Homo sapiens: one gene and its partners. The protein of the gene in region 1 purifies or fractionates together with the protein of each later gene. This does not show direct contact. Each region holds a gene or a part of one and is shown in the gene's direction. Other genes may lie near its edges.

What was found.
Region 2: the proteins of RAB39B (region 1) and WHAMM purify together in Homo sapiens (affinity purification with mass spectrometry; 2 studies listed by BioGRID and IntAct, with this or other methods). This does not show direct contact.
Region 3: the proteins of RAB39B (region 1) and CLEC16A purify together in Homo sapiens (co-immunoprecipitation; 3 studies listed by BioGRID and IntAct, with this or other methods). This does not show direct contact.
Region 4: the proteins of RAB39B (region 1) and HBS1L purify together in Homo sapiens (affinity purification with mass spectrometry; 2 studies listed by BioGRID and IntAct, with this or other methods). This does not show direct contact.

Annotation. Positions count from the first base shown.
Region 1 is NC_000023.11:155,261,480-155,269,096, reverse strand, and holds the start of RAB39B (ras-related protein Rab-39B), read left to right. Parts: upstream 1-4,605; 5' UTR 4,606-4,808; coding exon 4,809-5,023; intron 5,024-7,617. UniProt on the Homo sapiens protein: The small GTPases Rab are key regulators of intracellular membrane trafficking, from the formation of transport vesicles to their fusion with membranes.
Region 2 is NC_000015.10:82,812,613-82,819,647, forward strand, and holds part of WHAMM (WASP homolog-associated protein with actin, membranes and microtubules), read left to right. Parts: intron 1-490; coding exon 491-664; intron 665-4,079; coding exon 4,080-4,230; intron 4,231-4,266; exon of another isoform or gene 4,267-4,975; coding exon of another isoform or gene 4,976-5,090; intron 5,091-5,307; coding exon 5,308-5,477; intron 5,478-6,710; coding exon 6,711-6,876; intron 6,877-7,035. UniProt on the Homo sapiens protein: Acts as a nucleation-promoting factor (NPF) that stimulates Arp2/3-mediated actin polymerization both at the Golgi apparatus and along tubular membranes. Its activity in membrane tubulation requires F-actin and interaction with microtubules.
Region 3 is NC_000016.10:11,178,554-11,182,711, forward strand, and holds the end of CLEC16A (protein CLEC16A), read left to right. Parts: coding exon 1-137; 3' UTR 138-3,633; downstream 3,634-4,158. UniProt on the Homo sapiens protein: Regulator of mitophagy through the upstream regulation of the RNF41/NRDP1-PRKN pathway. Mitophagy is a selective form of autophagy necessary for mitochondrial quality control.
Region 4 is NC_000006.12:134,960,810-134,967,844, reverse strand, and holds part of HBS1L (HBS1-like protein), read left to right. Parts: intron 1-1,371; coding exon 1,372-1,516; exon of another isoform or gene 1,517-1,519; intron 1,520-2,554; coding exon 2,555-2,566; 3' UTR 2,567-7,035. UniProt on the Homo sapiens protein: GTPase component of the Pelota-HBS1L complex, a complex that recognizes stalled ribosomes and triggers the No-Go Decay (NGD) pathway.

The DNA of each region.
Region 1 (7,617 bases):
TAAAGCAATGCTCAGAGGGAAATGTATAGCTATAAGTGCCTGTATTAAGAAAAAAAATCTCAAATCAATAACTTAACCTTCCAACTTAAGAAACTGGAAAAAGATGAGCTAACTAAAAGAAAATCAAGCAAAAGGAAGAAAATAATAAAGATTAGGGCAGAGATAAATGAAACAAAGGGAATAGATTAACAATAGAATCAATGAAACCAAAAGTTGGTTCTTTGAAAAGAACAACAAAATTGCCAAACTCTTTTTTGGTTCCATATGGAATTTAAAGTAGTTTTTTCCAATTCTGTGAAGAAAGTCAATGGTAGCTTGACTGGTCATTAGAGAAATGCAAATCAAAACCACAATGAGATAACATCTCACGCCAGTTAGAATGGCAATCATTAAAAAGTCAGGAAACAGTGGCACGTGCCTGTAATCCCAGCTACTCGGGAGGCTGAGGGAGGATAACTGCTTGAGCCCAGGAGATGGAGGTTGCAGTGAGCTGAGATCATGCCACTGCACTGGAGCCTGGCCCACAGAGCGAGACTCTGTCTCAAAAAAAAAAAAAAAGGAAACAACAGATGCTAGAGAGGATGTGGAGAAATAGGAACACTTTTACACTGTTGGTGGGAGTGTAAATTAGTTCAAGCATTGTGGAAGACAGTGTGGTGATTCCTCAAGGATCTTGAACCAGAAATACCATTTGACCCAGCAATCCTATTACTGGGTGTATACCCAAAGGATCATAAATCATTATACTATAAAGACACATGCACACATATGTTTATTGCAGCACTGTTCACAATAGCAAAGACTTGGAACCAACCCAAATGCCCATCAGTGACAGACTGTGTAAAGAAAATGTGGTACATATACACCATGGAATACTATGCAGCCATAAAGAAGGATGAGTGCATGTCCTTTGCAGAGACATGAATGAAGCTGGAAACCATCATTCTCAGCAAACTAACAGAAGAACAGAAAACCAAACACCACATGTTCTGACTCATAAGTGGGAGTTGAACAATGAGAACACATGGACACAGGGAGGGGAACATCACACACCGGGGCCTGTTGGGGGGTGGAGGGGTAGGGGAGGGATAGCATTAGAAAAAATACCTAATGTAGGTGACAGGTTGATGGGTGCAGCACATCACCATGGCGCGTGTATACCTATGCAACAAACCTGCATGTTCGGCACATGTATCCCAGAACTTACTATTTAAAATAAATAAATAAATAAATAAAAACTATTAGGACTAATAAGCAAGTTCAGCAAGGTTGGAGGATATAAAATCAATATGCAAAAATTAATTCCATTTTATAAACTTGCAAGGAGCAATCTAAAAATGAAATTAAGAAAACAATTCCATTCACAATAGCATCATAAATAACAAAATACTTGAAGTACAAAACTTATACACTGAACACTATGAAACATTGTTAAAACAAGTTTTAAAAACCTAAATAAATGGAATGATATCCATCTTGTGCTCATGGATTGAAAGACTTAATTTTAATAAGACAGCAACACTCTCCAAATTGATCTACAGAGTCAAATCAATACCTATTAGCATTCCAACTGCCTTATTTGCAGAAACTGATAAGCTGTTCTTAAAATTCATATGAAATTGCAAAGGGCTCCAAATAACCAAAACAATCTTTGAAAAGATTGGATCCTCCACAGTAGGAGGACTCACACTTTCTGATTTCAGAACTTTCTACAAAGCTACAACAGTCAAGAGAGTGTCATACCAGCATAAGGGCAGACATATAGACCAATGTGTATTGACCATTTCATTTCCTCTTCTGGGAATTGTCTCTTTATATACTTTGTATTTTTTATGTGTAATCTTTTATCATTGCCTTACTGTTTTAAAACAAATCAGCTTTATTAACATAGAAATAGAAAGTCCAAAAATACATCCATACATCCATGGTCAATTGATTTTCCAGAGTGTCAAAATCATTCCATAGAGAAAGAATAGTATCCTCAATAGAGTGCTGGGATAGCTGGATATCCACATGCAAAGGAATGAATTTGAACCCCTTCCTCACACCATGCATAAAAACGAACACAAAATGGATCATAGACCTAAATGAATGAACTACAACTATAAAACTCTTAGAAGAAAGAATGAGTAAACCTTCATGACCTTGGATTGGGCAAAGTATTCTTAGACATGACACCAGAAGCATGAGCAACAAAATAGAAACTCGATAAATTGTACTTCTTAAAAATCTAACTTTGTTTTTCAAAGGACACCCTCAAGAAAGTGAAAAAAAAGAACACACTGAATTGGAGAAAATATTTGCAAATCATATATGTGATAAAGGACTTGTGTCTAGCATATATAAAGAACTCTTATAACTCAATAATACAAAGACTAGTAATCCAGTTTAAAAATGGGCAAAAGATCTAAGTCAATATTTTTCCAAGGAAGATACACAAATGGCCAATAAGAATGTAAAAATATGCTTGAAGTCATCAGTCGTTAGGGAAATGCAAATCAAACTAGAATAAAGTACCACTTCACATCCATGTTAGAGAGAATGTGGAGAAATTGGAACCCCATAGGCTGCCAGTGGGATGTAATATGGTACAGCCACTGTGAAAAAGTCAGGCATTTCATCAAAGGGTTAAACATAGAGTTGCCACAGGACTGAGGAATTCCGTTCTTAGGTATAAATCCCAAAAAACTGAAAACAGATATTAAAAAAAAAAACCTGGCACATGAATATTCGATGGTAGGATTATTTAGAATAGCCAAAAGGTGGGAACAACCCAAATGTCCCTCAATGAATGAATGGATAAACAAGATATGGTCTATCCATATGATGGAATAGTATTCAGCCACAAAAAGGAATGAAGTACTGATACTTGCTACAGTGTGAATGAACCTTGAAAACATTATGCTAAGTGAAAGCAGCCAGTCACAAAAATGCACATATTATATGATTTCATGTATATGAAATGTTCAGAATAGGGAAATTTATAGAGACAGAAAGTACATTAATGGTTGCCAAAGGCTGGAGGAACATGGGATAGAGAGATGATAGCTAAAAGGTTCTGGGTTCCTTTTTTTAAAAAATATATATACATATTTTATTATACTTTTAGTTCTAGGGTACCTGTGCAGAACGTGCAGGTTTGTTACATATGTATACGTGTGCCATGTTGGTGTGCTGCACCCATTAACTCGTCATTTACATTTACATTAGGTAAATGTAATCCCTCCTAATGCTATCCCTCCCCCCTCCCCCCACCCCTCTGGGTTACTTTTTGAAGTGATAAAAATGTTATAAAATTAACTGTGGTGATAGTTGTATATATCTGTGAGTATATTAAAAACCTATGCTAAGAATTGTTCACTTTAAATGGGTGAATTGTACAGTATGTGAATTTTCATGTTAATGAAGCTGATTTTTTTTAAAGAGTAAGGCAACGATAAAAGATTACACATAGAAGGCCGGGCGCGGTGGCTCACGCCTGTAATCCCAGCACTTTGGGAGGCCGAGGCGGGCAGATCACAAGGTCAGGAGATCGAGACCATCCTGGCTAATACAGTGTAACCTTATCTCTACTAAAAATACAAAAAATTAGCCGGGCGTGGTGGCGGGCACCTGTAGTCCCACCTACTCGGGAGGCTGAGGCAGGAGAATGGCATGAACCCGGGAGGTAGAGGTTGCAGTGGGCCGAGATCGCGCCACTGCACTCCAGCCTGGGCGACAGAGAGAGACTCTGTCTCAAAAAAAAAATAAAATAAAATTACACATAAAAAATACAAAGGATATGAAGAGACAATTCCCAGAAGAGGAAATGAAATGGTCAATACACAAGACTTGGTATTGACCTCATCAGTAGTCAGAGAAATGTAAAAATAAAGCAATGAGACATATTTTTATTTAACTAAATTCTATTGAGAAGAATTAAGAAAGAATAAAACATACATATGATGCTTGAAATAATGCAGAGCGATGGTCTTTTCACACATTGCTGGGTAGAATTTAAACTGTTAAATAGTTTTGGAAAGTAGAATGCCCATGTCCGTTAAATTTAAAATACTTATACTCTTTGAATTCATGGCCCCTTTTTTAAGACTGTAGCTCACAGAAATAAAATACTTGTGGCTACACTTTAAAATAAGTTATGACAAAAGGGAAATTAGGTGGAAATGGAAAGATATTTATGTTGCTTTATTAATTGCAAAAAGCAATTATTAATTGAAAGTAAGGCCCCAGTTTAATTTTTGTAAAAACAAACAGCAATAAATGCATATAGGAATACAAACACATATAATATTTGTGTGTTTATGTGAGCATGGAAACACTTGTAGACTAATATATAATTATGTGCCTTCCCTTTTTTGTGCAGTTTTGTATTGCTTTGCTAGTTTCAATGAAAAGGTATGACATTGGCAGTTTGAACGACAGAGAACAGTTTTAATGAACAGAGGGTGGGTGGGGTAGTTAGAAAGGGAGGGATCGCGCTAATGTTGCAGCCATTTTGTGTGCGCTCCTCTTACAGATAGTGCGGCGGCCCAGGCGTCGCGTCTACGCGGGGGATTACAGTAACCCGGTTGTCAGTGATGAGTCAGAGTGCGTGGTGCTGATGCTGCTGCCATTTCATCACCTTTGCGAGCGCAGCATCCATCCCTCCGCTCTCCCGGCGCCTGGGCCTACCCAGCTTCGGGCTCCCAGGCCAGCGATGCGCTCGCGGCTGAGCTAGATCCTGCCGAGCCGCGCTCTCTGAGGCGTCGGCGGGGCGCCCCCTCCCGCCGTCCCCGGTCCGGGCCAAGGAGACCTGCAGAGCCGCGGCCATGGAGGCCATCTGGCTGTACCAGTTCCGGCTCATTGTCATCGGGGATTCCACAGTGGGCAAGTCCTGCCTGATCCGCCGCTTCACCGAGGGTCGCTTTGCCCAGGTTTCTGACCCCACCGTGGGGGTGGATTTTTTCTCCCGCTTGGTGGAGATCGAGCCAGGAAAACGCATCAAGCTCCAGATCTGGGATACCGCGGGTCAAGAGAGGTTCAGGTGGGAGCGCAGTCCGGGCCCGCAAGCAGTGGGAGGGTCTTCGGGGTTTGCACCGCCTCTGGGGAGAGAGGACTTCCTGGTTCTAGGTGCGGTCCAGGAGGGCAACACCAAGGGTCTTGAGGATTCTGCCGAAGCCCACCTTCGGCTAACCCGGAGTTTAGTGCAAGGAAAGAAGCGCCCTGGCAGGGAAGGCCGGTCAATAACACATATTGCTTGCACCACAACTCCACCAACCTGCCCTTTGGTGGCTAACAAACTAGCTGGAATTGATCTCTGTATCTGTAATTCATCAATCTCAGTCCCTATGTTACATACTTTCAAAAACGTTCCCAGGTCATCCTAACATAACTGACAGAGATTTAAATACATAAATACATGTGTATTATGTTTTATTTCCACATCTGTGTGTGTGCACATATATATGCTAACATATGTTCTAACATGAAATAGATACGATTGATTCCTTCTTGCAACCAGCACACATTCAGTGATCATCTACTATGTGCCAGACTCTGGGCTTGTTCCTGGGAAAACAGTGTGAGGAGACTCACACAAGGGGATGCCATGTAATCTAAACAGACAAAGCCCCTTCATTCTTGGAACTTCTGTGCTAACATAGTTGAGGGAAATAGATAATCAGCAATTACGAAAGTGTGTCTTGCTCATATTTGTATGCCCACTCCCTACTGTAACACTTGGCACAAAATGAACATGCTTAATTTCAATCAATGAATTCATTGAATAATCAATGAATATGTTTACTTTCACTCAGAACCCTTTGCTTTTCTATTGTAGCATGTATTATTTGTAATTATATGTATGAACACAGAGGAGGAAAGGTTAACTGGAGAAGATGAGACCGGATGAGTATGACTGCCTAAGCAAAGACAGGAAACGCCCAGGGATAGGAAACAGCATGAATAAAGACAGAAGTGAGAGGGAGCAGAGTGTACACAGAAAACTTTGCAGAGAACAATTTGAACTAAAGTAGAGCAGCAGGAACCAGATCAAGAAAACTCAATAGCCCAAGTTTATGATCATTTACTCATTTATCTATTGAAAACTAACTAAGCATAGAAGATACTGGTTGGGTAATTGAAGAGGGGTAAGGAGAAGAAATAATTACAAACTTAAGTTACCTCCAGCTCCCCACTTCCACAAACACCACTGTGGAAAATATCCTTGTACAGGTTCACTTTGAACTTGCGATTGCATTTCTCCTAAGCAAAGAAAGGTATCTTTTATGTGTTTGTTGGAATTTCTTTCTATATGAACAGCCTGTTCATATCCACTGCTTATTTATTTATTGGGCAATATGGACTTGTAAGAGTACTTTATAGATTAAGAATATTAACCCTTTCCTGTCATGTATGTTGTAAGATATATTCCTAGTTTATCATCTGTCTTTTCACATTATTTAAGATTTTTTAATGTAGGGAAGAATTTAAGGTTTATGTAGCCTTATGTCCATGCTTAGAAGGCCTTTGTCACTTTCTTTGCTAAGTACTCACAAACAATTAATGTAATAATATATTCCAGAGTTTTGACAGTGATCTACAGCTTGCTTGTTGATTTCTTGAATCAACCTTCTCACAAATCAAAACCTTTGTTTGTTCATGTCTAAATTTTCTGGTAAATCTACCATTCTCCATGAATCTTCAAACCTAAGAGACGAGAAATGCTTTCAGTCCCCAGGGCTGATTTGCCTGATTTTGGAGACTTAAAGTCATTTGTAAGTTTTACTTTTACCATCATCTAGCTTGGACTGTAGGTCCCTGGACAATGCTTGTTCTGCTAACATTGAGCCATTTTCTCTAAGCTATTGAGTCCTTCGTTGTCTATCTTCTTTATCTGAGGAGACAGAAAACCTAAAAATAGACATAGGTAAAAAAAATCACAGTAGTCTAAAGCAAGTGACTGCAGAGACAAATAGGTCCATACCCTGTAATAAGCTTTAATACACTGTAAGCAAAGTGCCATAATGTATATTTATAATGAGGTTCCTCAAGTCAAGAAGTTAAAACATGTGAAGTTTCTTCTGATGGCTCCTGAGTTGAGTTGGCCTCTCTGAAATGTGTCAGGAAACAGGGCTGAGAGGCACTTTGCCTGAACCCTTCGCCATCTCTCTTTTTCCCATTCCCACAGGCCTTGAAAATAAAAAATAAAATTGTGTTTCTCCTCACAGAAGAGATTGAGGATCCCTGTTAGCTAATAATAATAATAATAATAATAATAAACAATAATAATAATGGAAAGAGAAAAAAACATGGTAATGATAAATGGAAAAAATGGAGTAGCAAGATACCTACTTTAAATATTTTGTTAACTATCATAAATTCATTTCTATGTTTTAAAAATCCTGTTTCAACTGCTAGCATTTGTAATGAACTCTCCACGTCACAGAACACTTTAATATCCATTGTTTCATTTTGCCTCATGGTAACACTGTGACTTGGGTATCCTATTTTGCAGAAAAGGAAGTCTCTGTCAGTTATTCAGATTTGGGGGGTGGGAGAGTTAGTTGTAGTTTTACCTGAAGGCAAGAAATAGAACTCAGTTATGTCCCAGGGTCACTCTCCAGTGCTGAATCCATG
Region 2 (7,035 bases), on another chromosome or scaffold:
TTCTTTTGGGTCCCTTTCGCTGCATACTTAGTGCATAGTTGAGATTAAACTTTGCACTCTGCCTCTCCATTTAATATTATAAAAGTGTCTTTTTTTTTGAAATGGAGTTTCCTTCTTGTTGCCCAGGCTGGAACCACTGTCTCCCAGGTTCAAGCGATTCTCTGCCTCAGCCTCCCCAGCAGCTGGGATTACAGGTGTGAGCCACCATGCCTGGACAAAAGTCTCCATATTATTAAACAATCTTCAGAAGCACAGTGCTGAATGACTACAGTAATAATATTCTTACATGGATATATCATACTTTTCTTAACCATTCTTGTTTTATTGGGCATTTTTGATGGAGGATGATAACATTTTCATATTTAATCAGTATTTAAAATTGATGTATTAAAAGTTGAGAACATGAAGGTTTCTTTTGTTTAGTTTTGTTTGTTGGGTATGTATTAAATATACTGTCCTGACTTGAGCTTTATTCACATTTGCTTTCTAGGTTATTCAAGGACACGGAAAAGCCAACACCATGGTAGCATTAATGAACGTTTACCAAGAGGAAGATGAAGCATACCAGGAATTGGTTACCGTGGCAACCATGTTCTTCCAGTACTTATTGCAGCCATTTAGGGCTATGCGAGAAGTTGCAACTTTATGTAAGCTTGATATTTTGGTATGTTTTTTTAAAATTTTTACTTTATCAGATTTACTATTTGTCATAAATTATTTCTTTATTTACACTTAATGTTCAATCTCTGTTTGTACTTTGTTTGGGTTTACCATTATGTTTATTTATTTACTTATTTATTGATAGAGATGAGGTTTTGCCATGTTGCTCAGGCTGGTTTCGAACTCCTGAGCTCAAGCAGTCTGTCCACCTTGGCCTCCCAAAGCACAGCATTACATGTGCCTAGTTTACCCTTATATGTACATATTGAGTTTATATTTAAAATTGATAGAAAATGAAGACATTTACGTTGGTCATCTTAATAGCTTAAGATTCCTACAGATTTGAAAGAGTTAAATGTTTTTTCTGGTGATGAATTTTTTTTTTTTTTTTTTTTTTTTTTTTTTTGAGACAGGGTCTCCCTTTGTCAGCCAGGCTGGAGTGCAGTGGCATGATCTTGGCTCACTGCAACCTCCTCCAGGTTCAAGCGACTCTTCTGTCTCAGCATCCTGAGTAGCTGGGATTACAGGTGTGTACCACCACGCCCAGCTAACTTTTTTTGTATTTTTAGTAGAGACGGGGTTTCACCATGTTGGCCAGGCTGGTCTTGAACTCCTGACCTCAAGCGAGCTACCCATCTCAGCCTCCCAAAGTGCTGGGATTACAAGCATGAGCCACTGCACCCAGCCTGATGAATTGTTTTTGATGTGATATTTATTTGCTTCAGCTTGTTTTCCTCTAAGGACTTACGCAGATTTCTTAAAATAAGATGAAAATTTAAATAGCAGGACCCTAGATTGTAATTCAGTAACTTAAATTTTAGTAAATGCTGTTATCACTCTTGCTTCATTGAGCCATCAGACAACCCTGTGACATCATTCAGAAAAGGCATGCTTATTCCAGTGTTACAAATGAATCTAGAGTCCAGAGGAGTTAAACAGCTTGCCTTGGGTCTCAACAACAGAAATCAGAAGACACCTAAGATGTCTCTTGGTTTCTGCCCCCTGCACCGGGCCATCTTTCCACATATAATCTCATGACCCTTGCCAGATGATTGTATTATAAAAATAGTATCACATTTAGATGAGAGTCATACCACTCTAACCTGTGGATAAAGTTGTTCTGTTCATTATTTTGAAAGTCTATTATTTGGAAAGTCTACTTCTTGCATACATTTTTCCTTTCTTCTTTTTTTTTGAGATAGAGTTTTGCTCTTGTTACCTAGGCTGGAGTGCAGTGGCGCAGTCTCAGCTCATCGCAACCTCTGCCTCCTGGATTCAAGCAATTCTCTTGCCTCAGCCTCCCGAGTAGCTGGGATTACAGGCATGTGCCACCACGCCCAGCTAATTTTGTATTTTTTTAGTAGAGACGGGGTTTCTTCATGTTGGTCAGGCTGGTCTCGAACTCCCGACCTCAGGTGATCTGCCTGCCTTGGGCTCCCAAAGTGCTGGGATTGCAGACATGGGCCACCACACCCAGCCTATATTTTTCCTTTCTTTTTTTTTTTTTTTTTTTTTGAGACAGAGTCTCGCTCTGTCGCCCAGGCTGGAGTGCAGTGGTGCAATCTCAGCTCACTGCAACCTCTGCCTCCTGGGTTCACGCCATTCTCCTGCCTAAGCCTCCCGAGTAGCTGGGACTACAGGTGCCCGCCACCATGCCCGGCTAATTTTTTTGTATTTTTAGTAGAGATGGGGTTTCAACATGTTAGCCAGGATGGTCTTGATCTCCTGACCTCGTGATCCGCCCGTCTCGGCCTCCCAGAGTGCTGGGATTACAGGCGTGAGCCACCGCACCCGGCCTGTTTTTCATAAAAGGTGTTTTAAGATATCACTCACAGATTTTATATATATATATATATATATATATATATATATATATATATATAGTACAATTCAGTGATTTTTAGTATATTCAAAGTTGTGCAGTGATCATTACTGTGTAATTTCAGGACATTTTCACCCCCAAAAGAAACCCTGTACCCTTTAGTCACTCCCAACCCTGGGCAACCACCAATCTACTTTCTGTCTCTGTGGATTTCCCTACTCTGGACATAGCAACAGCATTATTCAATATGTGGTCCTTTCACTCAGCACAATGTTTTCAAGGCTAATCCACGTTGGAGCAAATATCAGGATTTCATTTCTTTTTATTGCTGAGTAATATTCATTGTATGGATATATTACATTTTATTTATCAGTTGATGGACATTTGGGTTGTTTCCACTTTTTGGCTATTATGAATAATTCTGTGAATGTTTGTGTGTAAGTTTCTGTGTAGACATATGTTTTCATTGCTCTTGTGTATGTACTAAGGAGTAGGATTGCTGGGTCCTGTGATTACTCAATGTTTAACCTTTTGAAAGACTGCCAGACAGTTTTCCAAAGTGGGTGCATATTTTATATTCCCAAAAGCAGTAAATGAGGGTTCCGGTTTGTCCACATTATCACCAGCACTTGTTACTGTGTGTCTCTTTGGTTACAGCCATCCTAGTGGGTGTGAAGTGGTATCTCGTTATGGTTTTGATTTGTAATTCCTTGTCGGCTAACTTGTACATATTTCTTAGGCTTTGTAGAAGAAAAATTGCATATTGGATGACATAGCAGTACACGTCTTAGTTCAGGCTGTTATAACAAAGTACCGTAGATTAGTGGCTTATAAACAACAAAACTTTTTTTTCACAGTTCTGGAGGCTGGGTAGTCTGAGATCAAGGTGCTCACAGATCCATTGTCTTGTGAGGGCCAGTTTCTTAATTTGTAGATGACTGTCTTGCTGTGTCTTCGCATGGTGAAGAGCAGAGAAAGAGAGATCCTGTGTCTCCTCTTCTTTTTATAAGGGCATTAATCCCATTCTTGAGGGTTCCACCCTCATGACCTAATTACCCCCCAAAGGCCCCATCTTCAAATATGATCACACTGGGGATTTAGGCTTCAACATATGCATTTTGGGGGGAGTCCAATACCAGTACATGTTATAAGCATGAATATACAGATACTATATTTTAGGTGATTATATTACATATCCCTAAAAGAAACAGTAACAACAGCTAATACTTAAGTGCTGTGTTCCAGGCCCTATGCTGAGTGCTTGACAACACAGATCACTCATTTAAACAATTGTGTATTATTATTAATAGAAGCATAAGTTGACAACATTCCTCTCTAGAAAAAGTTATTCTAGGCATGTGAAGTGAAAGTGGGTTTTTTTTTCGCTTTATGCCCCAGAGTGTCCTTTTGTCTTACAGGTGGTGCTCAGCTTAGAGCCTTATTCATACGCAGTAAGGGACTGCTGAATGAATGAAAATTTAATTGACTGAGTAGTAGTGTAGTTAAATTAATCCATGTGACCAATTTCCTTTCAATTTCCTAATGGCTCTACATAACTATTAGCTCTTACTAAGAAAATTTTCCCTTCTGTCTGTAGAAGTCTTTGGATGAGGATGACCTAGGTCCTAGAAGGGTAGTTGCCCTGGAGAAAGAAGCTGAAGAATGGACCAGACGGGCTGAAGAAGCTGTCGTCTCTATTCAGGATATCACAGTGAATTATTTTAAGGAGACAGTAAAAGCATTAGCAGGTGATAATTTAAAAAATGCTATATGAAGATACATGTAATTGATTATCATTTTATTCAAATACCATTTGAGTCCCTCTTACGCACTAGGTACTATGTTTTCTAGGTGCTGAGAATTCAGTGTCAAGCGTTAAGAGACGTTGTACAGTCTGGTGAAGGGAGAGAAATCTTAATTATCTATTCATTGAAGCACATGGAAAATGGCAGTGACAGTAAATGGCACAAAGAAGAGAGACATGGGCTCTGAGGGTCTGTGAGAGAGAAATTGGGCTTGATCAGGGTGGTGGTCACTGAAGGCCTCTGAGAAGTGGCGCTTGCCCCAATATCTGAAGGGTAAATGGAAGTTGAGAGAAAATAAAAAGTGAGGAGTATTCCGGGCAGAAGGAATAGCACTGCCAAAAGTCCCCTGCCTTGAGGGAAGTTGGCAAATTAGGAGCTTAAAGAAAACCTGCGGGGCTGGATCGCAGAGAGTGCAGGACAGTGTGGTATGAGGGAAAATGCTGGCCAGACAGGCAGGGGTCAGACCATGCAGGGGCTTGTGGGCTGGGTGAAGGACTTTTTTTTAGTCTTAAATAATTGTTGATAAAAACACCAAGTAGGAAACAACTTAACGTCTGTCAGTTTGTTAAGTTATGGTACCTTCATAAAACAGAAAACTACGTAGCTGTTAAGCATGATTCTTGATTTTTTTTTATGAGTGGCAAGAGTTTCTGATACATTGTGCAGAATCAACAAGATAGAAAGCAGAATGATGATCCTGGTTTTGTGGTCAAACTATCCATATGAGCCTGTCTGTCTAGCTAGACATAGAAACAATATGGAAGCAAGTGTGCCAAAATATAAGAAGCAGTTGCCTCAACTAGGTGAGATCATGACTTACTGTCTTTTTAAAAATGGAATACCTAAAATTTTATATCAATGAACATGTATTATTTTTATCATAATAAAAAAGTTAATAAAATTTCTTTTAAAAAGGATATTCTGCAGGTAGTATGGAGGCAATAAAAAAAGGATTAGCTCATGATAAATGTTTCCCTTTTTAATGAGGTGTAATTATATTTTATTTTTATAATCCAACAGGAATGCAGAAAGAAATGGAACAGGATGCGAAGAGATTTGGTCAGGCTGCCTGGGCCACAGCAATTCCCAGGTTGGAAAAACTTCAGCTAATGCTAGCTCGAGAGACTCTGCAACTCATGAGAGCGAAAGAGTTGTGTTTAAATCACAAAAGAGCTGAAATTCAGGGAAAGGTAAGACAAAGATAAACATAACTTTGTTTTAAAAATACACTTTTATTTTTAAAACATTTTGTATAAATAAAGGATACAAGTGCAGTTTTTGTTCCATGGATATATTGTGTAGTGGTGAAGTTTGGGCTTTTAGTGTAATCATCACCTGTATAATGTAATTGTACCTATTAAATATTTCTCATCCCCCCTCCCACCCTCTTACTCTTCTGAGTCTCCAGTGTGTATTATTCCACACTGTGTATACACATTACTTAGCTCCCACTTATAAGTGAGACCATGTGGTAAAGCACACTTTTATTTTTAGATAGCACTTTTCTTTCCAGGCATCGTTAAAGAGCTTCTTTTCTTCGCTTATTCCAACACCATCTTCTGTGGAAGGTTAGACATAAAGTTTTCCTTTGGTTAAGATGTTTCAAAATACCATATTGTAGGTTTCACTTTATAGTAATACCAAGCTCAGTATTGAAATGGGTACTGTACTTGAAAATCAACCCAGCAATGTTTTCACTACAACTTTAAAATAATCAAAGAGATACTTCACTGCATAGTCACTTAAATTTTTTCCTATAATCTTATGACTTTAAAGCAGAAAACACTGTAAACACCTGTCTTAGTTGGCTCAGGCTTCTATAACAAGATTAAATATCACAGATTGGGTGGCTTAAACAACGGACATGTATTTCTCACAGTTCTGGAGGCTGGAAAGTCCAAGATCAAGGTGCCTGCAGATTCACTGTCCGGTGAGGATCCTCTTCCTGTCTGGTAGACAGCTGCCTTCTTAACTGAGTGCTCATATAGCCTTTCTTCTGTGTGTATGTTTAGAAAGAAAGTGATCCCTCTCTTTCTCTTCTAATAAAGGCACTAATCCCATGATGGGGGTGCTATCCTTTTGACATAATCTGAACTTAATTACTTCCAAAGGACCCACCTCCAAATAACATCACACTGGGAGTTAGAGTGTCAACATACGAATTTTTGGGGGGACACCAATATGCAGTACATAATAATACCTCATTGCCATTTATGTTTCTCAGAACCTAAATGTTTTCCTCTGTTTCAAGGATGAGATAAAGTATTTGCATCACTAGATGAAATGAAAAAGTGTTTCTTTCCTATTTGCTTTGTTATATTTAGTACTGAACAAGGAATAGAAAATAGCTAGAATGCTTCTAAAGTTTGTTTTTAATATACTAATTTATTTTAACTTATTTTTCTTTTTTCTATGAAAATAAGATGGAAGATCTTCCAGAACAAGAAAAAAATACAAATGTTGTAGATGAATTAGAAATACAATTTTATGAAATTCAATTAGAACTATATGAAGTTAAATTTGAGATATTAAAAAACGAAGAAATACTGCTTACTACACAGTTGGACTCTCTTAAAAGACTTATAAAAGGTAAAATTTAAGTATATAGATTGCAATGTTTAAATTATAAATTTAAGGAAATACAGACCATATTATCAATTACTTTTTGTAAATTATAACATCTGAAAATTTCCTAAAGTTTTCCTTCAGTGGTTTATTATTCAAATAATATATTCATTGTTAACACAT
Region 3 (4,158 bases), on another chromosome or scaffold:
TTGTCCCCCCAGTTGACCCCCACAGCCTCCGCAGCCTCACCGGCATGCCCCCGCTGTCCACGCCGGCTGCCGCCTGCACAGAGCCCGTGGGCGAAGAGGCTGCATGTGCTGAGCCTGTGGGCACCGCTGAGGACTGAGTCAGTGCCGGGGCCTCCCTTTGTGTGTGTGGCCCCGCTGGTAGGGACCCCAGTGCCGCTGACTGGCAAGACACACTGGGAGCACCCACCATTCTGTGCGGCCCCCAGCAGCCATCTCAACCACCTATCCCTGCGCTCCCTTGAATGGGAAGAAGCCCCACGTTGTCCTTGAATTCCTTTTTCACTTTGCATCTCTTCACGTGCAGGCTGGGACCAGCGGAGACACCGCGGCGAATGCAGATGACTGCACCGGCCACTCAGGGAGCTGCCTGGGCTCCGTGTCTCTGAGCCCCGGGTGGCAGGACCCACCGGCACCTCTTTCTTCCTCTGTCATATGGCTCCTCTGTCACCAGCCCCAGTGTGCACAGAAGAATTGGACCAGGTCACTGTACGTAGAAATTTGTAGAAAAGCAGACTTAGATAAACATCTCCTTTGGATATTTATTTCCGCTTTTGGCAGCAGGTGAACATTTATTTTTAAAACTTCTATTTAAAAGAAGTCCAAAAACATCAACACTAAGGTTTGATGTCATGTGAAAAGTGTAATAATAACAGTTAAGATTTCATGATCATTTTCACTGGACCTTTCCTGATATTTTGTTTCAGAGTTCTTAGTGTGGCTTTTTCCATTTATTTAAGTGATTCTTTGTTACTCACTAACTCTGCAAGCCTGTGGAATAATGAAGTACCTTCCTGGAAAGTTTGGATTATTTTTTAAACAAAAACAAGGGAGATACATGTATTCTCAGGTACACACAGAGCTGAGAGGGCTGAATGGTTTTCTGCTATAGCAGCCGAGAGGCCTCCCATCATGGAAAGATTTCTCCAGGAAAAGGAGGAATGTAGCCAGCTCCCCACTCAGGACGCTTCCTCATTTCTCTTCACCAAAACCAAACAGAGACAGCTTCCAGCACCTTCTTCAGTGTTACCATCTCTAAGAAGGAACCAGTTGGGACCGTGAAGACTCCCGACCCTGTGGCCATGATGGAAATCAAAGGAAGACACCCTCTACGTCACCTGCCCTCGACTGTGTGTGCCCACATGTGCCGAGAGATGGCCCAGAGCCAGTTCCCCTCCAGCTGCAAGGGCATGGTGTCCCCAGAGCTCTGAGTCTGTCACTCTCCCTCTGCTACTGCTGCTGATCTGAATATGGAAACCCCATGGTTCCCTTCCCCATTCGGACTGGGTGTGTACAAGCAAGGACCCAGATGCATCAGACACAGCCCCCAAGATGTTCCTTTCTACTCGGCCAGCTCGGGAGCCAGACACAGCACTCACAGCCCAGGCCGTGATCCACCCTCCCCAAGTCCACCAGGGCCAGCGGCCCCTCACCTCTCTGGTCACTGGTGAGACCTTCCACAACTTTCCTCCAGACCTGCCAGCAGATGTGCCCACCAGGGGCATTAGGTATCCGCCGGAGCCTGGCCATAGGGTAGTCTCGGGAGCCGCGCTGAGATCTTTTGCCACCTGCATTTTAGAAGAACATGGTCTCTGTCTCCTCGGCCCAGCCAGCTGTCCCGGCAAGGCCTGCCGAGGGCAGTTTTCAACCTCATGAAGGAAACACAGTCCTGCCAAGGAGGGGGAGTGGCGCCCATGGGGACAGGCCTCAGTCCTTAGAAGCCCTCTGGGTAGCTGTGCCCACCCAGCCTTCATGGCTGCAGGTACAAGGACCTTTGCTTCCATAGAGAAAACGCACAGCTCAGAAAGGGGGCCACATGGGCAGAAACCCAAAGGAAGGACAAACCACGACCACCGTGGCCATCTGCAGAATCCCTGGAAGAGAAGGAAGGCAGGGTGGAGCGGGGGGAAGACCATCATGGAGAGAAGGACCACAGCATCAGGAGACGGGACACGCCACACCCAGCAGGCAGCCTGTGTGTTGCTTAATTTTTTAAGAGCAAGAGGGGTAGAGAGGATCAAGCTGGCCCTGGCTGGAGATGGCTAGCCCCTGAGACATGCACTTCTGGTTTTGAAATGACTCTGTCTGTGGGGCAGCAGAAACTAGAGAAGGCAAGTGGCTGCCCCACCCCAAGGCGTGACCAGGAGGAACAGCCTGCAGCTCACTCCATGCCACACGGGTGGGCCACCAGCCTGCTGTCAGAAGTCTCTGGGCTCCAACTGGTCTTGTAACCACTGAGCACTGAAGGAGAGAGGTCTTGGTCAGGGCTGGACAGCATGCCCGGGAGGACCAGCAGAGGATTAAAGGTGACTGGGAGGACCAGCGGAGGATAAAAGACACTGCTCAGGGCAGGGCTTCTACCCTGCATCCCTGGCCAAGAAAAGGGCAGTCCCCATGTGGGCTTGCAGGGTCACTCTCAGGGGCCTCTTTCAGCTGGGGCTGGCAACTTGCGTCTGGGGGACACCTCCAGGTGTGTGGGGTGAGGATTTCCTATAACCAGGGCTCCCAGAAGCTTTGCTTATGTAAGGAGGTCTGGGAGCCAGCCCATTGGAGGCCACCAGCCATTTTGGCTTCAAAGGACCCCACCTCACCCAGGTCTCAGCGGCAGTGGGCACAGCTATGTCTTCAGGAGCTCCCGTCAAACCTCATAGCTGGGGCGCTCCCAGACAGGCCAGTCCAGACAGGACACGCTGGGCCCCTGGCATCCAGAGGAAGAGCCAGGAGTGTGGGAAGGCCCACAGTGGGGGCTGTGGCTTCTGACACTCAGGTCATAGCCTCAGAGGTCTGAGGTCAGCCCCCACAGACCCATCCGGCCCGCCCCCCAAGTCCCTGCAGAGAGCACTTAGAGTTATGGCCCAGGCCCTGGTCCACCCTTCCCCTGTGCACCTCCGGCTGGGTTTGCCAAGTCAGGGAGCAGGGCTGGCCGCAGGAACTCCCAAACCTTGGCTTTGAATATTGTTGTGGAGGTGTGCTCGTCCCTTTCTGGACGTGCAAGGTACCTGTCCCAGCAGGTCAGATGGGGCCAGCTGAGGCGCTCCCCCAGGCAGGAAGGGCCAGCCTTCACCATCGCGTGGGATTGGGAGGAGGGGCCTCCGTGAGCAGCCCCTCCTCTGCCGCTGTCCCAGCCCAGTCCCTCTCCCGGAGCCTTGGCAGCCTCCCACAACCCAGACACTTGCGTTCACAAGCAACCTAAGGGGCAGGTGAAGAAGCGCAGCCCTGCCAGACGCGCTAGATTCCTCTAAGGTCTCTGAGATGCACCGTTTTTTAAAAAGGCGTGGGGTGAACTGATTTTGATCTTCTTGTCTAGATGCAATAAATAAATCTGAAGCATTTAATGTAGTCATCTTGACATTGGGCCTACACTGTACGAGTTCCTTATGTTTCCTTGAGCTAAAAATATGTAAATAATTTTTGTCCCAGTGAGAACCGAGGGTTAGAAAACCTCGATGCCTCTGAGCCTCGGGACCGCTCTAGGGAAGTACCTGCTTTCGCCAGCATGACTCATGCTTCGTGGGTACTGAACACGAGGGTGGAAATGAAAACTGGAACTTCCTTGTAAATTTAAACTTGGCAATAAAAGAGAAAAAAAGTTACCAAGAATGTAGCGTGCTGCTCCTGGGGGCTGTGGCAGGAGGCCGTGGCCTGGCACAGGGGAAGGTTCCCAGCCAATGACCCCTCATCCCGGCGCAGCTGCTTGGCAGGGGTGTGGTGGCTGGAGCCCCTCCCTCTCCCTCCTCCCCGCACCAGGTTCCCTCCCATCCCCAGGTTCCTAAGAGGTTGTCGGGGCTCATACAACCCGGGAATAACTGCTAAGGGGCAGTTGGCACCATCAGGAAATGTCCCCGCCCTACCCCTGCCGGGTACAGGGAGCGTGGTCCACATTCTGCATCTTTTCCCTGTTGGGCAGGTGGCTGCCCATCCAAGCCTCAGGCTCTGCATCTGTGGATTTGGACAGCCAAGCCCTACCTCGCAGGACAAGCGTAGCGAGCAGCGTCATTGTTGCCAGGCTGGGCCGAGGGAAGCAGGAAGGCTCCCCACCGAGGACAGAGGTGAAGTGCGGGGGTGGACATGACTCGGAAACACCAACGTCCACCAGCGTGAAACCCTGAAATCCCTGGAAAC
Region 4 (7,035 bases), on another chromosome or scaffold:
TGCTTTCACATAATGTATATTCTTAGCAATCCTGTGAAGCATCTAGCAAGTGACACAAAGCTCAAGTGGTAGAGGCAGGATTCTAACCTAGTCAGTTGGTTTACATAAATTATATTCTTTTGTTCAGGAGCCAGGTTGTTTGACCTAGACAACTGATACAGAATTTTCAGTCTGAAATTGGCTCATCATATATAATCCTGAGTCTTCCCCTCCATGCTCCTGCTACAAAATCCTAGCTCAATGATGGTAGAGTTTAACATATTCTCGTGTTTGTGTTCCCTGTCATCTTATTTGTAGCTTTATCCTTTTATTTTGCACAACCGTTTGGCCTTTCCCTTTCATTCCTGTTCAGGCACGTTGTAGGCTCTTGATTGCTTTATGCAGAATGGAATTTAATGTTCTAGAAACTAAATTAGGAACAAGCCATTTATGTATTAGATGCTCTCCTTCCTAAGGAATGAACTTAAGCCTGAAATTGTCCAAAACCAATATTTGGAATTTTTGGTGTATTTTTTTAGAACCTTCTTTTAGTCGTCTGCCCCTGAACTTATCTTTCAAAAGGAGAGTTTATGATTTCTGTCCACTATACTTCTAGAGTACATAAAAATTAAATTAGAAAACAATTCCAAAATGTCCCTTTTTAGGTTCTGCCTCTCTCACTAAGTCTGAGCAGGGCCTAGCCTAGAGATTTTTGTTCACTTATTTTTATGAAATCATTTACAGTCTGGTCCATGCCCTGTCTTCCTTCATATTTTACAAGTATCATATTGTGGAAAAGCTACTTATGTGATTTTTGTCCTGAACTCCTGCTAAGGAACTATTATTCCTGTGTGGGGAAAGAGAGAGATTGCTTGATTGATTGAGGGGAATCTTAGCAACAACAGATTGATTGTCCTCTTCACAGATAACTTCCTAATACACATTCCATAAATTACAGTTTTACTAGGAAAGACATAGGGCATTATATTCCTCTTTGCAAATACTTTTTTATAGAAATAAGCCTTAGTATAACTTTCTTTATTAGATAATTGAACTCACTTTCTTGAGGGAATGAAAGAAAAAGCATTTATTTCATGATGAGGGGCCTTAAGCATTTTAGGCTATAGTGGTCCCGTAAGGGATAGAGTTATATTTGGAAGATTGGTAAAAATGAACTACCTAATGTTTCTTAAATCTAGAATTACTCCTCATTTCTTTCAACTAAAGCAGAAAGTCCAAAGACATATATTTTCATTCAAAAAATATTTTTCTTGTTTTTGAAAGACTCAGTTGATATGTTGGTTAAATGTGAAATATTTGTTTTTCAAGTTGTTATTATTACATTTATTCACCTCTATCATATATTCATTTGTTCTTTTTTTTTCTTAATAGGTTTTTGACTAAAGGCCAGAATGCATTGGTAGAGCTACAGACACAAAGACCAATAGCTCTTGAGCTATATAAAGACTTTAAAGAGCTGGGGAGGTTCATGCTACGTTACGGTGGTTCTACAATAGCTGCTGGTGTTGTCACTGAGGTATTTTATTTTAAAGTGACTCATTATATATCCATAGTTATGATGCCTTTTCTTTTTTACCTTTTAGGAATGAAAAGAAAGCATTGAGGGAATGAAAGAAAAAGCATTGATTAGGAGAAGCCTTACTCATTTTAGGTTGTAGTGGTCCTTTAAGGGATAGGGTTATATTTGGAAGATTGGTAAAATCTTCAGTGAGATTTTATGCCTTAAAGGAAACACAGTTATGCTACTAGAACAAGAAATTAGAATTTATATTAAATTCTAATTGCTGGAGAAAACAGCCAGAAATGAACCAGAAAATTTCAATGATTTAATTTCTTCTACACTATCATAATTAATATGAATCTTATGAATATTGTATTTTAAAGGGTACTTCATTACTCCACATGATTGTTTTCTGCCTAAAACTAGTTTATTTAATTGGATATAACATAAACTTTAAGTTGCATCAAAAGTGAGTTACACATATCATGAAAAATCTTTCTTTTAAGTTGCTAAAGCACCAAGAAACTCTATATACATAATTTAAGTAAAATACATATGGAAGGCGGTGTGGGGTGGAGGTGAAGAAAACAGCTTTCAGAGTTACACTGCCCATTTGTGTTCTTGCTCCACCAGTTTTTAGCGGCATAAATGCATTTCTCCTTCAATTTACCTCCTTCAGTGTAAAAATAGGATAATAGAATCTACCTCCTAGAGTTGTGTTGAAATGAAATGATAACGTGCAAAGCACTCAGCACATAAAAAGCATCCAATATTGGTAGCTGATATCGTTGCCATCAATATCACATTTAATCTATCAAGGCATTCTTTCTAAAAGAGCATTCTAAAAATAAGATAGAGTCATTTGTGGAGAATAATGGAGAGATTATAGTAAATTGCAGAAATGGCATGACTAGGAAAGGAAGAAAGTTGCAGGACAAAGAAAAAGATTTTCTCTTGATATAATAATTCTTTCACCATAATTTTCCCTTTGTTGTTCTTATAATGTGATTGATTAAATTACAGCAAATGTCTTTTTTTTTTTTGTTTTAACAGATAAAAGAATGATGGGTCAGAATTTCTACCACGTTTCTGGATACAGTGAAATAGCTAACCTCTGTTTCAAGAATGCAGTTATTAAGTCAAAGGAACAATGTGCAATTGATATGTTTTTAGATGAGAGAGAAAAATTAAAGCTAAAATTAGCTGCAAAGAAGTATTAATAATCACCTCTGCAAAAATTCTAAGTTGCCAACTGGCAAAGAAAGTCTAATGTTAAAAACAACTTTGCCTTTGAAACGTTAATAAATGGATTTACTTTGCTAAGATTTATGGCAAGTGTCAAAAATAGTATCTGAAGATACTGAATCATCATGAAATGAACTCTACTTCTGGCCAAAGCACAATGTATTTGCAGTTTTCTCTTTTGATTCAATTATACTGCACATGTTTTAAGGAAAAGTAACTTAATTGGGTTTTTCAGGCAGTTGATATTTGACCTAAGCTTTTTTTTTTTTTTTTTTTCCAGTTAATGCTAAGAAAAGATTTGGGGAAGGTTATAATAAAAGTATTTTGTGGTGACCATAAGAATGTCCCTCCCCAAACAAGTAAACTTGTGAAAGTTTAATTTGGAATTAGTGGAAGCTGTTCCTTTGAAAGCCAAGATATTATTTAAGTTGTAAAGCCAGCTAATAAAATGCCTTAGTTTGAGCATAATACAAACTGTGTTTTGTTCTTTAGACATTTATGAGATTCTCTGCCACTAACAGTAAATATGATTTAGGGGTTTTGTGGGATCTTTTTCACCTAAGAGTTTCCTAGCTCTGTCACATGAATTCTTTTTTATCCTAATGGCAGATCCAATTTCATCTCATTCATTTTTTTAACCATAACTTGCTTTTCCCATTCTCACTTTTAGAATTATACCTATGATGGCCCTTTCTTTATCTTGCTTACCTTATAGATTATAAGTCCCCTGTGAGTAAGTAAGAGTCATGTTTTTCTTTAAAGTTTCAACAACAAACCCCAAGGTTTATTTATTTAACAACAGGTATTCGTTGAGGTGCCTTCTGGGTGCAAGGAGCTTTAGAGTAGATTTTGACCTCAGCTGAACCTGGAACTCTGATCTGATAGACTGTTTATGATAAGCTTTTTTTTTTATTAGCAGCGTGATTTGTATATCGATGGCTTAACATATACAACAGCATTTCTTCTCCCTGCACCTTTTCGTGAACCTGACATTTTGAACATAAGCAATAACATCTGTATGGTAAAGTAGGCAGATTATACATGTGTTGCTTAGTGAATGATTACCAAGTGAACACACTTGGTATATTGCTTTACCAAAATACATGTGTAGTTGTCACTTCAGATTCACTGAGTTAAGAAAGTTTTATTTAAATATTAATATTAATCAAGAATTTAACAGATATATGTGACAGAAATCTAACTTCAAGTGACTGAAGCAGAAAGAAAAATTTTTGAATGACATAACTGAGAAAATTAGAGGTAGCTCTAGCTTTGATTCCATTTAGATCGAGCAGCTCACACAATGTTAGCAAGGACTCATCTCCACTCTGCCTTCCCTGGTGCTGGTTTTGCTCTCAAACTCTATATAGAACTCTCGGCCGGGCGCGGTGGCTCACACCTGTAATCAAAACACTTTGGGAGGCTGAGTCGGGAGGATAGCGTGAGCCCAGGAGTTTGAGACCAGCTAAGGCAATATAGTGAGACCATGTCTCTACAGAAAAAATTTAAAAACAGATCAGCTGGGTGTGGTGCCACATGCCTGTAGTCCCAGCTTCTCAGGAGGCTGGGGTGGGAAGATCACTTGAGCCCAGGAGGTCGAGGCTGCAGTGAGCCATGATCACATCACTGCAGTCCAGCCTGGGTGACAGAGCAAGACCTGTCACCCTGCCACCCATAAAAAACCTCTTCTGTAATGCCAGGTTCTTGACAAGATGTGATAATTCCACACTTACATCCTCAGATCTCCCATCCAGGGCAAGGACAGACTAAAAGAGCATATCTTCTCCAGAAGTCCTAGAAACATCTCATCATTGACTATGATTGAATTTTATTTATTAATACTTCCCTAGGATATCCTGTGTTTGAGTGTGAAGTTAATATCACACAAAGCATGTAGCTAACAGTTGTGTGAGGGTTGGAAATTCAGGGTGCTGTTAGGAAGGGGAAATGGATTGGGGTTTAAGGTAGGGGGAGTAAAAACAAGAAACCATCCACTCTGTATATTATATAAGACTGTGATCGAATTAAGAATTTTAGTTTACAGTTTAGCATAAACAAATAGTAGTAGAAATGAATGCATTTATTCATTCCTTCCTTCTCCAATAGTGTTTAAGTACAATCTTTTTATTTGCATTTTATTGATGATTGATTGTGGTTGAAAGGAGTGGTGATATTATTTCGAGGATCCACTGTGTAAGAAGACTGTTGGCAGTGGAAGGCTCGAGTTGATTAAGTGACAAAGAGGTAAAGCAGACATGCCCAAGCTTGGTTATGCTCTGATTTCCTACCCTGTTACTTTCATCCATAATTTATAGTACATCCATTTTGTGTCATTTTGCTTCAGGTATTTCTTGTCCTGACTGTCTTCTTTTTTATGATTTTACTGTTTCTTCACACTAATGGCTTTGTCCTCTGACTTTGACTCTTTGTGAGATTCTTCTGAGCAGTTAACCTCTAGGATAATGTGGCTTGAACACATTACAGAACTATGTTTTGACTTGTTAGTATTATTCACACATTCATGACAATTGAGCCTCTCTACTGTGAGAAATGTTTTAGAGGCCAGTTTCTAGGCATAGCTGTTTTTCTCCCATGAGTATGCAAATCAATAGTTTTAACCATTGTTAAAATGCAATCATAGTGACTTCAGAAAATTTGGAAAATACAGAAAATATAGGGAAGAATAAAATTAACCCACAGTTCTGTCACCTAAAGGTAACTGCTGCCAATGTTTTCATGTATTTCTTTTCTGTCTCTCCAATGCATTTTTTTACATAGTTGTGAGCGTTAGCCAAGTTATTTTCATGTTGTTATGTAATCAATATTTTTCAATAGAAGTATTAGAGGTTTTTTTTATTGATATAAAAATAACAATTACAGATCCTGATATATAGAAGTTATTCAAAATTATACAGTTTTCAAAAAATCAAGACAAGTAGGCCCAATACAAACTACTGAATCATCTTCTAATTTCCCTCTAAAATATTTATAGAAATATGTAAGTAGAAAAACATTCATCCTTTCCTCGTCTAATTATGATCCTGCCATATTCCAGGCACAAGAGAAAGCTCTGGGGCTTGAGTCTTAATAGGGCTGATAGTCCAACCAGGGGACAGGGTATCATAAAGAGATAATTCAAAACTTTAAGATTGGAGGGTAGGTGATGGTAGAAAATTCTGCGGCAAACATTTGTTGATGCTCATCATTTGTTGATGTCATCAAAGATCACCAGGGCATAATTATAATCAAAATTAGTTTTATTGATGCTTGCTGCAGCAAGAGAGACTGCACACCACTGGGGTCTATGGGTGCTTCTCAGTGGGAAGGTGTAAGGAGGGGCTTGCTAAGAATTTGAGCACATGTAGCTAATTTTAAGGAGGGCTCAAGTGAGCAAGGGTTTCTTCTGGATTGAGTGCTGTCAGAAAGTGGATTGAGTGCTGTCAGAAAGTGGGAGTGATTTTGCAACTGGGTATCTTAATTTTTATGTTGTGGGTGGGAGGAAAGGAAAGAAGCAACAGTCACCCATGTTAGCCACAAGAAGAGGTTGGCTGTTTATGGTTTGCACAGTGACTTTGTTTTTATCTGTGCTCAGGCATGATTACAGTATCTCATTTTATCCGGATTACAGTGACCTCATCTGATGTTAGAGATTTGAGAATTGTTAAATGTTCAGCAGGAGAACGCCACCGCCTAGTGTGAATGCTAGGTCAGAAGCTGCTTTTTCACACTGAAACCATTTAAGTATGTACAAATAAGTTAATAGTGTAAATGTAGGTGTAAAATACAATGCAAAACAAAATAATGAAGTAAGTGAATTAAATTATTGCACCAAATATGGGGATATGAAATAGGGAAAGAAAAGCATTAAGTTACTTATAGTCCATAAAGGGACTACATTATTTTGTTACTCTGATAATCCCATAAAACAAAGTTTTAAGAATGTTTACAGTAACCATGAATGGAATTAGTGAAACTATTCATATCAATGCAAAAAAAAAAAAAAAAAAAGCAAAGAAACTAAGTCTGTACAGCAAAAGATGGAAAGGAAACAAGAAAATTAAATGAAGACAAAGGTTGTGATTATTACAGTAAATGAAAATAGGTTTTTATCTTTAAAATGTAGACTCAAACTGCAAAGCTAATGATATGCTATCTGCAAAATATTCCTATTTTGTAAATAAATAAAACCATAGATTTAAAGAAGAAAGGGCACAGATGTACTGGGGAGACAAAAATAACTGATCCGTTGGGTGTATACCATGTGCCAAGCAATTTTCATATACTCATTT